Linked DNA regions of Homo sapiens: region 1 is linked to region 2. The links come from fine-mapping of genetic effects on gene expression. A gene starts in region 2. The other region holds a variant in brackets. All regions are shown on one strand. Distances are from middle to middle.

Evidence for each region. PIP is the estimated chance that this variant, and not a neighbour inherited with it, causes the effect.
Region 1: its variant is the best candidate, but not a certain one, in a credible set for the expression of DTNB in whole blood (TOPMed, PIP 0.62).

What each region holds. Positions count from the first base shown.
Region 1 is chr2:25,616,401-25,621,774 of GRCh38, reverse strand. All of the region lies in intron 4 of DTNB (dystrobrevin beta), which reads left to right. Among named protein-coding and RNA genes, the nearest start is that of DTNB, 54 kb to the left of the region's middle. The variant C/G (reference allele first, on the strand shown) is at 2,036.
Region 2 is chr2:25,670,299-25,675,672 of GRCh38, reverse strand. It overlaps DTNB (dystrobrevin beta), which reads left to right and starts at 2,096. Exons shown (of 21, transcript NM_021907.5): 1 at 2,096-2,287. RefSeq lists silencers at 2,059-2,353, 1,718-2,647.

The DNA.
Region 1 (5,374 bases), 54 kb after region 2:
TTTAAAAATGTTGGTTTAGGCTGGGTGCAGTGGCTCATGCCTGTAATCCCAGCACTTTGGGAGGCTGAGACAGGCGGATCACCTGAGGTCGGGAGTTCAAGACCAGCCTGACTAACATGGAGAAACCCCATCTCTACTAAAAAAAAAAAAAAAAAAAAAAAAAAATTAGCCAGGCATGGTGGTGGTGCATGCCTGTAATCCTAGGGAGGCTGAGGCAGGAGAATCGCTTGAACCCGGGAGGCGGAAGTTGCGGTGAGCTGAGATCACACCACTGCACTTCAGCCTGGGCAATAAGAGCAAAACTCCGTCTCAAAAAAAAAAAAAAAAAGTTGATTTAGCAGTTTAATTTGAATCCATTTAAAAAGTTATATTGTTCCCCCTTAATACTGAATGTTTAAAACAAAACAATACAAAACAAAGCAGAAACAAACCAGTCCATTTCAAATAAAAGCAAATGTCTTCCATAAATTCTTAATCTGCCCAGCCTAGCATGTTATGGAATGGATGTTGCTGATAAAAGATAATATTAGGTTACAGTCTTCTTCATTAGTGATTTTTAAACAAAACTGTAATTTCCTGGGAGGCACAGACATTTCATATGTTGGTGTACAGTATTTATTTACATCCCTGCTTGTTTTTAGAAGGATTCAGGATCATAAGAAAAAAGCCAGCCAAGTAAGATCAGAGTCCTATGCTGAGTGGGAAGATTTTCCACCGTTGTAGCACATTTAAATTTTCTTTTTTTTAAGAGACAAGGTCTTGCTCTGCTGCCCAGGCTGGAGTGCAGTGGCATGATCATAGCTCACTGCAACTTTGAACTCCTGGGCTCAAGCAGTTCTCCTGCTTCAGCCTCCGGAGTGGCTGGGACTGTTGGGTGCGTGCCATCATGCCTGGCTATTTTCTTTTGCTTTTTAAAATTTCAGAGCTGTTTCTCAGTGTGAACAGGCTATTTATTTTATTTTTTATTTTTTGTAGAGACAGGGTTTTGCTTTGTTGCCCAGAGTGGTCTTGAACTCTTGGCTTCAAGGGATTCTCCAGCCTCGGCCTTCCAGAGTCTTGGCTTACAAGCATGAGCCACCACACCTGGCCATCCATCACTTACTTACTCTTTATCTTGTAGCTTTTCTTCCAACAGAAGTCATGAGTTTGTGCTAATTTACAAATAAGAATCTTCTGAATTCAGAATATGCAGACTTGCAAAGGGTTTTACCATTAACTAATCTTTCAGAAAATTTTTTTTGTTTATTCTTTTGTGCTTTTCATTTATTTTTTTAAAAGAAAGGGCAGGAGGAATGCTTTATTCTGAGTGTGTTTCTTTTTCCTTGCCTTTGTTTTCTTCTGAAACAGAGAGAAGTAGTAACAAGTCCAGAGAGACTTCTCCTGTCCATTCAGTACCTCACTTCGAAATTAATCTGATCAAGACACTGTTTCATCATGTAACTTCCCACTTCAGAAACCTTCAGAGAATCCCTGTGGTTTTGAATTAAGCTCACACTCCTCCGTTGGTTTAATGATAACACTGCTTACCTCCCTGCCCACACCAACCTCTAATTACGCTCCTGGAGACGCTCTTCTTTTCCAATATGACATGCTCATTTTCCCCAGACAGATGCCATGCGTTTTGTTCCCCCTCAGCTCCCACATCTGTCTGGGATTACCCAGTCTCCTTTTGTTCTGTCCAAATCTTTTCTATTTCTGAGAATTCAACCCAGATTTTTTTTTTATTATTTTTTTTGAGACAGAGTCTCACTCTGTCGCCCAGGCTGGAGTGCAGTGGCGCGATCTCAGCTCACTGCAACCTCCGCCTCCCGGGTTCAAGTGATTCTTCTGCCTCAGCCTCCTGAGTAGCTGGGATTACAGGTGTGTACCACCACGCCTGGCTAATTTTTGTATTTTTAGTAGAGATGGGGTTTCACCATGTTGGTCAGGCTGGTCTCAAACTCCTGACCTCCTGATCTGCCCACCTCGGCCTCTCAAAGTGCTAGGATTACAGGCTTGAGCCACTGCACCCGGCCTCAACCCAAGTTTTTACCTA[C/G]CATGTAGCCTGCCTTATTATCACCAATCCCATTTTCATCCTTTTGATGACTTACAGTTCTTGTTTATATTATTATTTTGGCCTTTAATTACATAAGGTTGTAAACTGCTTCATAAGTGTTCAAAATGGAATGGATGTCCGTGAGAGCAGAGATTCTGCTTTATATTTCTTTCATTCCTCAATTAGTATAATGCTAGATTATTTATAAATGTTTATAAGATTGAAATGAAAAGCAGCAGGCATTCTGATTGTGATAAAATTGAATAATATTCTAAGTTGATTTTACTTGATTAAAGCTGTTTGACATTTGCCAAATGGATTCTTGATTTGCAGTTGATTATTGCAACATCCATTCACTGTGAAGTTTTGTAAATTAAGATTAATTGGCAGAATGCGAGTTTTTGAAAATCAAAGAGAGATGCTCTTATTACGTTTAGCTACATATGATAATCGGACTGGTAATAGTGTTTCTGAAGTTGAAGTTTGTTTCCGTGTGAGAAATTTGTGGTTGGCAGCATCCACAATCATTTGCTAAAGAGATAGAAACAGCTTGTGTTAAGTACAAAATACTACCCGTAGTCTTGTTTTCAAAAGTATTAATTTGAATAGCAAACTCCTACTAGATAGTGTAAAGCTAGAAACGTCATCCAGATTTGGTTAGTTTTAAATATTGAAAGACAGAATTTGAGACCTTATTGAACTGAAACGAATGATTTCCCATCCACAGGGAACAGGTGGGGACTTCAGAGGCTTCAGAAGGTACCTGCATGTTAAAACATAACAGCGTTTATTCAGGGTGACTCATTGTCTGCTTAGCTTGGCACAGAGCTAATAATGGTGTTTTCTCAGTGTTGGATAATAACTCTTTTTAGAAGTCATATGCATAGTTTATTGTCAGACTGTAAAATGATAGGGCTATGGAAATGAATCATGCAGAGAAGGCTGAGAAAGGGATCATCATGTCCCTTACTGAAGGAGGACATTCCCTGGAGGGCTTCTATTTGAGTGGGGTTAAAATCACAAGTTTCTTCTGTCTTATCATCTCAACAAATATTACCTGTTTATCTTTTCATCTTAGTGTCTTGATAGAGGGGTTCGTATTCACTGTTAATGGCGTTATATTTCAAATGTTGACCTACCAATCAACTCTGTAGCTATCATAGGCCAGATTTGAAGTGAGTAACATTATTTGTGATGAAACCAGGTTAAATATCATTTCCAAATCTTGTTTGAAGAGAATTGATTCTGGTATAAACTTGGACTTTACATTGGAAGTAGTGAAAACATGGACATTGGTGAGGACATGTGCTGTGGCCACTGGCAGCTAATTATTCAGTTTCAACTTGACCAGTGTATACAGAATAATTTCAGATGTCTCGTGGGAAGGATCAAGAATGAGTTCTTCCAAGAAGAAGGAATCAGTTAGATAAAGAACAAAGTCGGGCGGTATCAGGGTGCTGAGGAGCTGCAGTTTTCTCTCTGCTTGCCTCTAGTTGTAGAGGAAGAATGCTGGGGCTCTAAAGAAACATTAGAAAAGCAAAAGTAATGCTTCCTCTTGGCCTTGTTTAGAGGCAGTTGTAGGAAGTTAGGCTTAAAGTAGACTGAGGGGTTTCAGTGCCAAGAAAAGCATTCTGTGCAGAGGAGTCACTGCTGATGTTTGGCCTGCAAAGCAAACAATTGAGAGAAAAGAGCTAAGTTTTTTTTCTTTTTGAAGGGAAAAATATAAGTAACGTGATTTGTGGAAGTAAGGATGTTGAGACTACCCCTTCATTAATTTTATCGGATAACTATTTCTTTATGCCAAGTTATACTGGAATTTTAAAGTAGGTATCTTTAATAAGTTTCTTTTTAAATTTTTTATTGAGACAGGGTCTTGCTCTGTTGCCCATGCCAAAGAGCAGTGGCGTGATCTTGGCTCACTGCAACCTCCACCTCATGGGTTCAAGCGATTCTCCTACCTCAGCCTCCCATGTAGCTGGAACTACAGGCGCGTATCACCACACCTGGCTAATTTTTGTATTTTTATTAATACAGTTTGAGGCTGGTCTCAAACTCTTGGTCTCAAGTGATCCACCTGCATTAGCCTCCCAAAGTGCTGGGATTGCAGGCGTGAACCACGACGCCTGGCTTCTTTAATAAGTTTCTATAACTGTATTTAAATATACAATTATAACTTTTGTGTATATTTTTGTTTATATTAATATTTCCTTTTGAAGAGTGTATAAACCTTTTGATAGCACTAACTGTGAACCTAAAGTGGTAAATGAAAAGTGATTTGAATGGGGAAGAAGGGTTAATAATTAACACCTCGAGCCCACTGCCCCATTCTCAGGATGCATACTTAACTTATGAATGTATTCTTAAACATAAAGGTTCACTAAGTATTTTCGCCAAATCTCTCCTGTCTGTAAATTCATCCCGCTCACATTTACTATGATCCTTAATCTCAGATTCCTCTACTTTTACCTGAACTTAAAACTCCTTCCACTGTGCTTATACAGTCTGTTTATCCTGTTGAGTTACAGATTGACACTTTGGTGCATATCCCCTGACCCTTAATAAAGCCTGTGATGTTAAGCACGCATACATTTGTTCACCTGAAAGTGCATACAGGTGGAGGGAAGAGAAGATTCGTAGTTTGTTGGGTGGGAGATTATGTGTGGAGATTTCTACGTGGCTGTTGTGAATAAGAAAAATGGTTAAACAGTGGATCTCAGAGATGGTATGTTAAGGGACCACACATTACTGGCAATACTTAATTGAGGGGTTAATGAGTCTTTTTTTTCCTTTTTTTTTTTTTTTTTTTTTGAGACGGGGTCTTGCTCTGTCGCCCAGGCTGGAGTGCAGTGGCGCGATCTCGGCTCACTGCAAGCTCCGCCTCCTGGGTTCACGCCATTCTCCTGCCTCAGCCTCCTGAGTAGCTGGGACTACAGGCCCCTGCCACCACGCCCGGCTAATTTTTTGTATTTTTAGTAGAGATGGGGTTTCACCGTGTTAGCCAGGATGGTCTCGATCTCTTGACCTCGTGATCCACCAGCTTTGGCCTCCCAAAGTGCTGGGATTAGAGGCATGAGCCACTGCGCCCGGCCAAGTCTTTTTTTTTTTTTTTACTATAAATAGCCTGATCTAGATTATTCTGTAAATTAACAGATTCTTTCATCGGAGACCAGCCATTGAGACTAATAATAATCTTAATGAATGGAAAAATACAAGTGTTTTAGTGCTGATCCAGGTTAATTGAGAATTATATCTGTTATTCTGTATTTGAATATGAGAGTCTCTGAATCTAGGACTAATATTTACAACAGGGTTGAGTCAAAGGATATTTTGAATAAGGAT
Region 2 (5,374 bases):
GGTAGAGATGAGGGTAGATGACTTTCAAGATATTTATGAAGGAAAACTCAGAGAGGGACTAGTAACTGAAGCAGAATCTAGAGGGACAGCGAAAGGGTTTCTTCCTTTTTCTTGAGGACAGGAAAAGCTTAAACATGAATAGATGATGAAGGAAAGAGACAAGTAAAGAGAAGTTGGTAATTTTGGAGTGAGAGGGGGAGAATGATTGAAAGGTGTTTGAAAAGTTTTCTGAGGATGTGGGAGGTGAAGAAATAGAGAACAGAGATGGAGAGATGCCAATACAGTGTCCTTGAAGTATTTAATTCCCTTATGGTTTAGGATTGTCTAGTCCACATATTGAAATTACCTTGGTTTCAATCAATAAACCGAACATATCAAGCGATATTTACACATTTATTTTATATTATTTACACATCTTTTCTCCAAAGAACAGAATCAATGTTTTACCCCTCTCAATGCCTTCCACATAGGGGGTGCTCAAAAAGGGCAAATAAAGAAGCTAGAGGTCTCTTACCTGTATTCTGAGTATCTTAATATGTACAAAACATAGCCAAGACCGTGCCTACAAGAGATAAGTCTCCTCAAGCATGAAAATATTCACACACTTCATATATGTAAGGTAAAAGGTAAAATGTCCATCTTTATTTATTTATTTTGAGACGGAGTCTCACTCTCTTGCCCAGACTTGGAGTACAGTGGTGCGATCTCGACTCACTGCAACCTCTGCCTCCTAGGTTCAGGCGATTCTCCTGCCTCAGCCTCCCAAGTAGCTGGGATTACGGCGTACACCACCACGCCCGGCTAATTTTTGTATTTTTAGTAGAGACAGAGTTTCGCCATGTTGGCCAGGCTGGTCTCGAACCCCTGACCTCAAGTGATCCGTCTGCCTCAGCCTCCCAAAGTGCTGGGATTACAGGCGTGAGCCTCCGCGGCAGGCCAGAAAATGCTCATCTTTTGAGGAACCTATTTGTTCCCATTTAACAAAGTTGGTTATCAGCATTTCCTTCACCATAGGAGTTTAAAAATAAAAAGAGGAGAGGAGGAGGAAGAGGGTGTTCTAAAGGCAGGCAGGCAGGCAGGCAGGCAGCAGCAGGAGGTGGCACGATCTGCCTTACCGTAAGGTGCCAAAAAGCAGTGAAAACCATACTCCCAGCATGCAGGCCTGGGGTCGCTTAGCTCTGGAGCTTACAGCCTTCATCATTGACCAATAGCCCCCAAAGGACGTTGCTGTTTTGAGTCTTAAGTAACGTTGAGAATGACCATTTGAACCATTCAAAAAGTCCTTGCTATATTCTAATTTGGCACCATCTCCTGTATTTCACAGTTTGGAAAGAATTCTATAAAAGATGGATAACAGTAAAACACAAAAAAGCTGGTGCTGAGATGGTAAACCTGGCTGCCCCGGCTCCTTTGCCCAAACTGTTTTCCCAGCCCTAATGTCCTCCCTTTTTCCTCCTAGGACTTCTTTTTCTTCCTTCGAGGTTGACCATAAATGCCGCCTCTAGCCCTCTGCGGCGTCCAAGCAGAAGTCGTCTCTAGCTTCTGTGCCAGCATCGCACCGTGGCTTGGCTCTGCACGGGTCATCGGACTTGGTTGTGTACATGGCTGTTTTCCCCGCTAAGTTTGGGGCGCCTCGAGCCCAGGCGCCGTGACCGTGATCGTGCGCCCACAGGCACCTGGTGCAGCGCGGGGCGCACGCCGCGGCTGGGCTAGCTTGCGGAGTTCACGGGGGTCACTCGGGCACAGGCTTGTGACCCAGGCGCGGAGAATGATTCACGGGGTGGCTCTTTGCATTCTTTGTCGGGTAGTCACGTCGGGCCGGGCACCCCGCCGACGGATACCTGCGGATGGAAAGACACCCGGCCCGACGCCAGCGAGCGGGAGAAGCCTGGATGGAGCCAGCTTCCCGCCTGCCCGGAACCCGCCGGCGACCGGTGGGCGGGGCGCGGCCGCGGGGGCGGGGTGGAGGGGGGTTGCTCGGCCGCTCCCGCCCCCTCCCCGCGCGCGGAAGCCACGCCCCCGGCCGCGCGCTCGCGCTGGGCGCGCGCCCGCCCATCCGCCCTCCGCCCTCCGCCCTCGCGCCCTCGCGCCGGGGGCGGGCGCTGCGCGTGCCGGGCGGAGAAGCGGCGCGAGCCGGGCGCTGCGAACGTTCGCCGCGGGGGTGGCTCCGGGGCCTGAGTAGGCGCTGCCGCTGCCTCAGCCGAGGGGGCTGGGCCGGAGCGTGCGGAGGAGTGAGGCCGCAGGAGACCTTCCCGACGACCCCTGCTCCGGCGGGGAAGTGAGCAAGGTGGGGGTCTGCGGCCGCCGCCGGGGCTGTGGGGAGACGAGCTGGGCTGGAGCCTCGCGCCCGCGAGGTGCGGGACGGCAGCTCGCGCTGCGCCGGGACTGGGGACCCGGGAGCCTGCGGGTGCGGCGCTGCAGGAGTCGGGGAGGGCGCGGGGAGCCGGGGCCGCTGCACCGCGCGCGGCTGCGAGGTGGGACGGCGCGGCTAGCCCCGGAGGGACAGGCAGAGGGGATGCGGCGGATCCCGGGCCGGGAGGGGTATCGGGGTCCGGAACGCGCCGGGGCACGGGCGCGAGCGGGGGCCCGGCGCCGGGCTGATGCTGCCCGAGCCCGGCTCGCCTGGAGGCGGCTCTGCGTTAGGTGCTGAAGGGGCGAGTGAGGCAGGTCCTGGCAGAGGGCAGGTGAGGCGGGCAGGCCCTGGCAGAGGGAAGGGTATTTATTTCAGATCACCCCAAATCACTGTTTCCCGAGGCGCCTAATAGCGAACCTGTCCAGGAGGTCACCCTGGACAGGAAAGAAGTGTCCCGAGACGAGGATGCCGGTGACGAATACTTGCCCTTAAATTCCTGTGCCAGGCCTTGGGATTAGGAAGACCTTCCAGCTACCGTAGGTAGAGACCCGTAGTCAGCACTGGGGCCACGAAATAGTATGGAACACCGTCATGTTATTGAGGTGCTGACAGTGTGGCTGTGAAGATATGCACATGAAATACAAAGGAGCGTCGAATTTTATGTCGCATGCCCTATTTACTTTCGGTCTCTTTTGTCTTTTCCCAGTATTGGGAAATTGGAGCCATAAATTGCGTGGTTTTGGGGATAAAGCAGAAAGGTCAAAAGAAGCCTATGGGAGAAATTTGGGAGAGTTTTGAAGGCTCCTACGGGTAACATTTAAAGGGGGCTCTTAGATGGGGAAAAAAGACGTTTGGAAAGAAAGGAAGTTTCCTTCCTTCCCATCTAGAAATAAGCTCCATGACTATTGACTGCTAAATCTTCAGAATGTTGCCTGGCTCACAGCGGTTGAGCCATAAGTGTCTATTGCATGAATGAATGGACAAGCAAGGTTTGGCCACATTTGCCATGGAGCAGTGTCAGTCACTCTAGTGTTAGGGAAGGTTGCTGGATTTCTCCTGTTCCACAAGTTCTCTCTCTCTGCCTCTTTTTTTTTTTTTTTTTTTTTTTTTTTTTTTGCTATGCGAGGCAACCCCGGTTCTGAGGTCTGGGCACGTTAAAGCAATGGCTAAGGCGGCGAGGTCTTGGTTTCTGTGGCCATGCTACCACTTTCCCATGTGTCTTTCATGTTGGCCTTCAAGAGCTTGCTCCTTGGCCTGTTGCTTGAGATCATCCCATTTTGTTCCTTCTCCCATTGGCTTTTTCTATTACTTGAGAAGGAAGAGGGTAGTGTTGTCTAGAGAACACTTTTTCATTTTGGTCCTGGTTCTTGGGTCTTAGACCTGTAGTGCGAGGCTGTTGGTGCCTCTGCTTTTCTGTAAGGGCTGGAATTCTACCTGTGCTCTGCCTTGGTTGAATCTCTGAACTCTGGAGCTCCAGGCTGCTGTTTCAGTAACCTGGGTTGCAGTGCCTGTTGGGTTACTTTGTCTGCCAAATTAAAACTTGACCTTTTATGAGTTCTCTAAGGATTTTTATCATGCATAAGTGGAATTGCCTTTGAAAGGGGTTGTGCAGTCAAGGTAGTGCTGGCAGAGTTTTTGGATGTCCACTATGCCCGAGAGACAAATTTCTACCTATGGTTAGAAAATTAGACTCAGAACCAAGAGAATTTCAACTTATTGTTTATTTTATGTCTTTATGTTACTCTCTCAGGGCCTTAGTTTCTTCGTGTGAAAAATAAGTAATAATCAAAATCTGGCATTGTATAGGAAGCCTTGAAGAAGTAAATTTATTTCTCCTGTTTCAGGGCTGTACAGCCAGCAGGTCTCTTGTTGAGAGGTGCCTAGGTTCTACAATATTGGGTGCCTTATTCCAGGCTCTCTCAATGATATTTTGTTTATGTATTTATTTTAAAACCAACTTTTTGACGTATAGTTGACAAAATAAAATGCACAGATTTCCCGTGTGCGGTTGGATGAGTTTTGGAAAAATGTGTACAGTAGTCCCCCCATTAGCCTCAGGGATATGTTCCAAGAGCACCAGTGGATGCCTGAAGCCACAGTTAATTCCAAACCCTATATAGACTGTTTTTTCCCTATACTTAAGTATCTATGATAAAGTTTTAACTTATAAATTAGTTGCCATGAGAGATTAATGACTTCTCTTAGGCATATGTTTGGCTTCTCTGTGGCATATCCCAATTGCCAGCATCACTACTCTTGCACTTTATTATTAAGTAAAACAGTGGTCACTTGAACACAAGCACTGTGATACCATGACAGTCAATCTGATCATTGAGACAGCTACTAAGTGAGTAACCAGAAGGTGGCTTATGCAGTGTGGATATGCTGGAGAAAGGGATAGTTCATATCCCAGGTGGGACAGAGTGGGATGGCACAAAATTTCGTCACGCTATTCAGAATGGTACACAACTTAAAACTTACAAATTGTTTATTTCTGAGGGGAGACTGCTGTATACTTTGTAACCACCATTCCAATCAAGAAATTTCCATCACCCCAGAATGTTCCCTTATGCTGGTTTGCAGTCCATTCTCTATCTTCCCTACTCCCTTTTATTGATTTCGAATTACACGAGCATCAGAGCTGTGGCACCTAGTTGTGTAGATTGTATTCTGCCCAGCTTTAGGGAGCACCATTCACATTGGAGTCCTTGTGCCTGGCAGCTGCTGGAGTTGTGTAGTGCACACTCTGTGTGACTGTGTGCTGCAACTCTGCAGGTGGCTCAGAACACACACTCACTTGTCAGATACTCAAACAGTACAGACAGAATAAAGGCCCCCTTGACCTACTCACGGAAACAAGTTATCAGTTTTTGTGGTCTTTCCAGACTATTCTCTATGTATTTTCATGTATATATAGGGAACACAAACTCATCTGATACTCAAAACAGTATAGACAGAATAAAGGCCCCCTTGACCTACTCACAGAAACAGAAGTTATCAGTTTTTGTGGTCTTTCCAGGC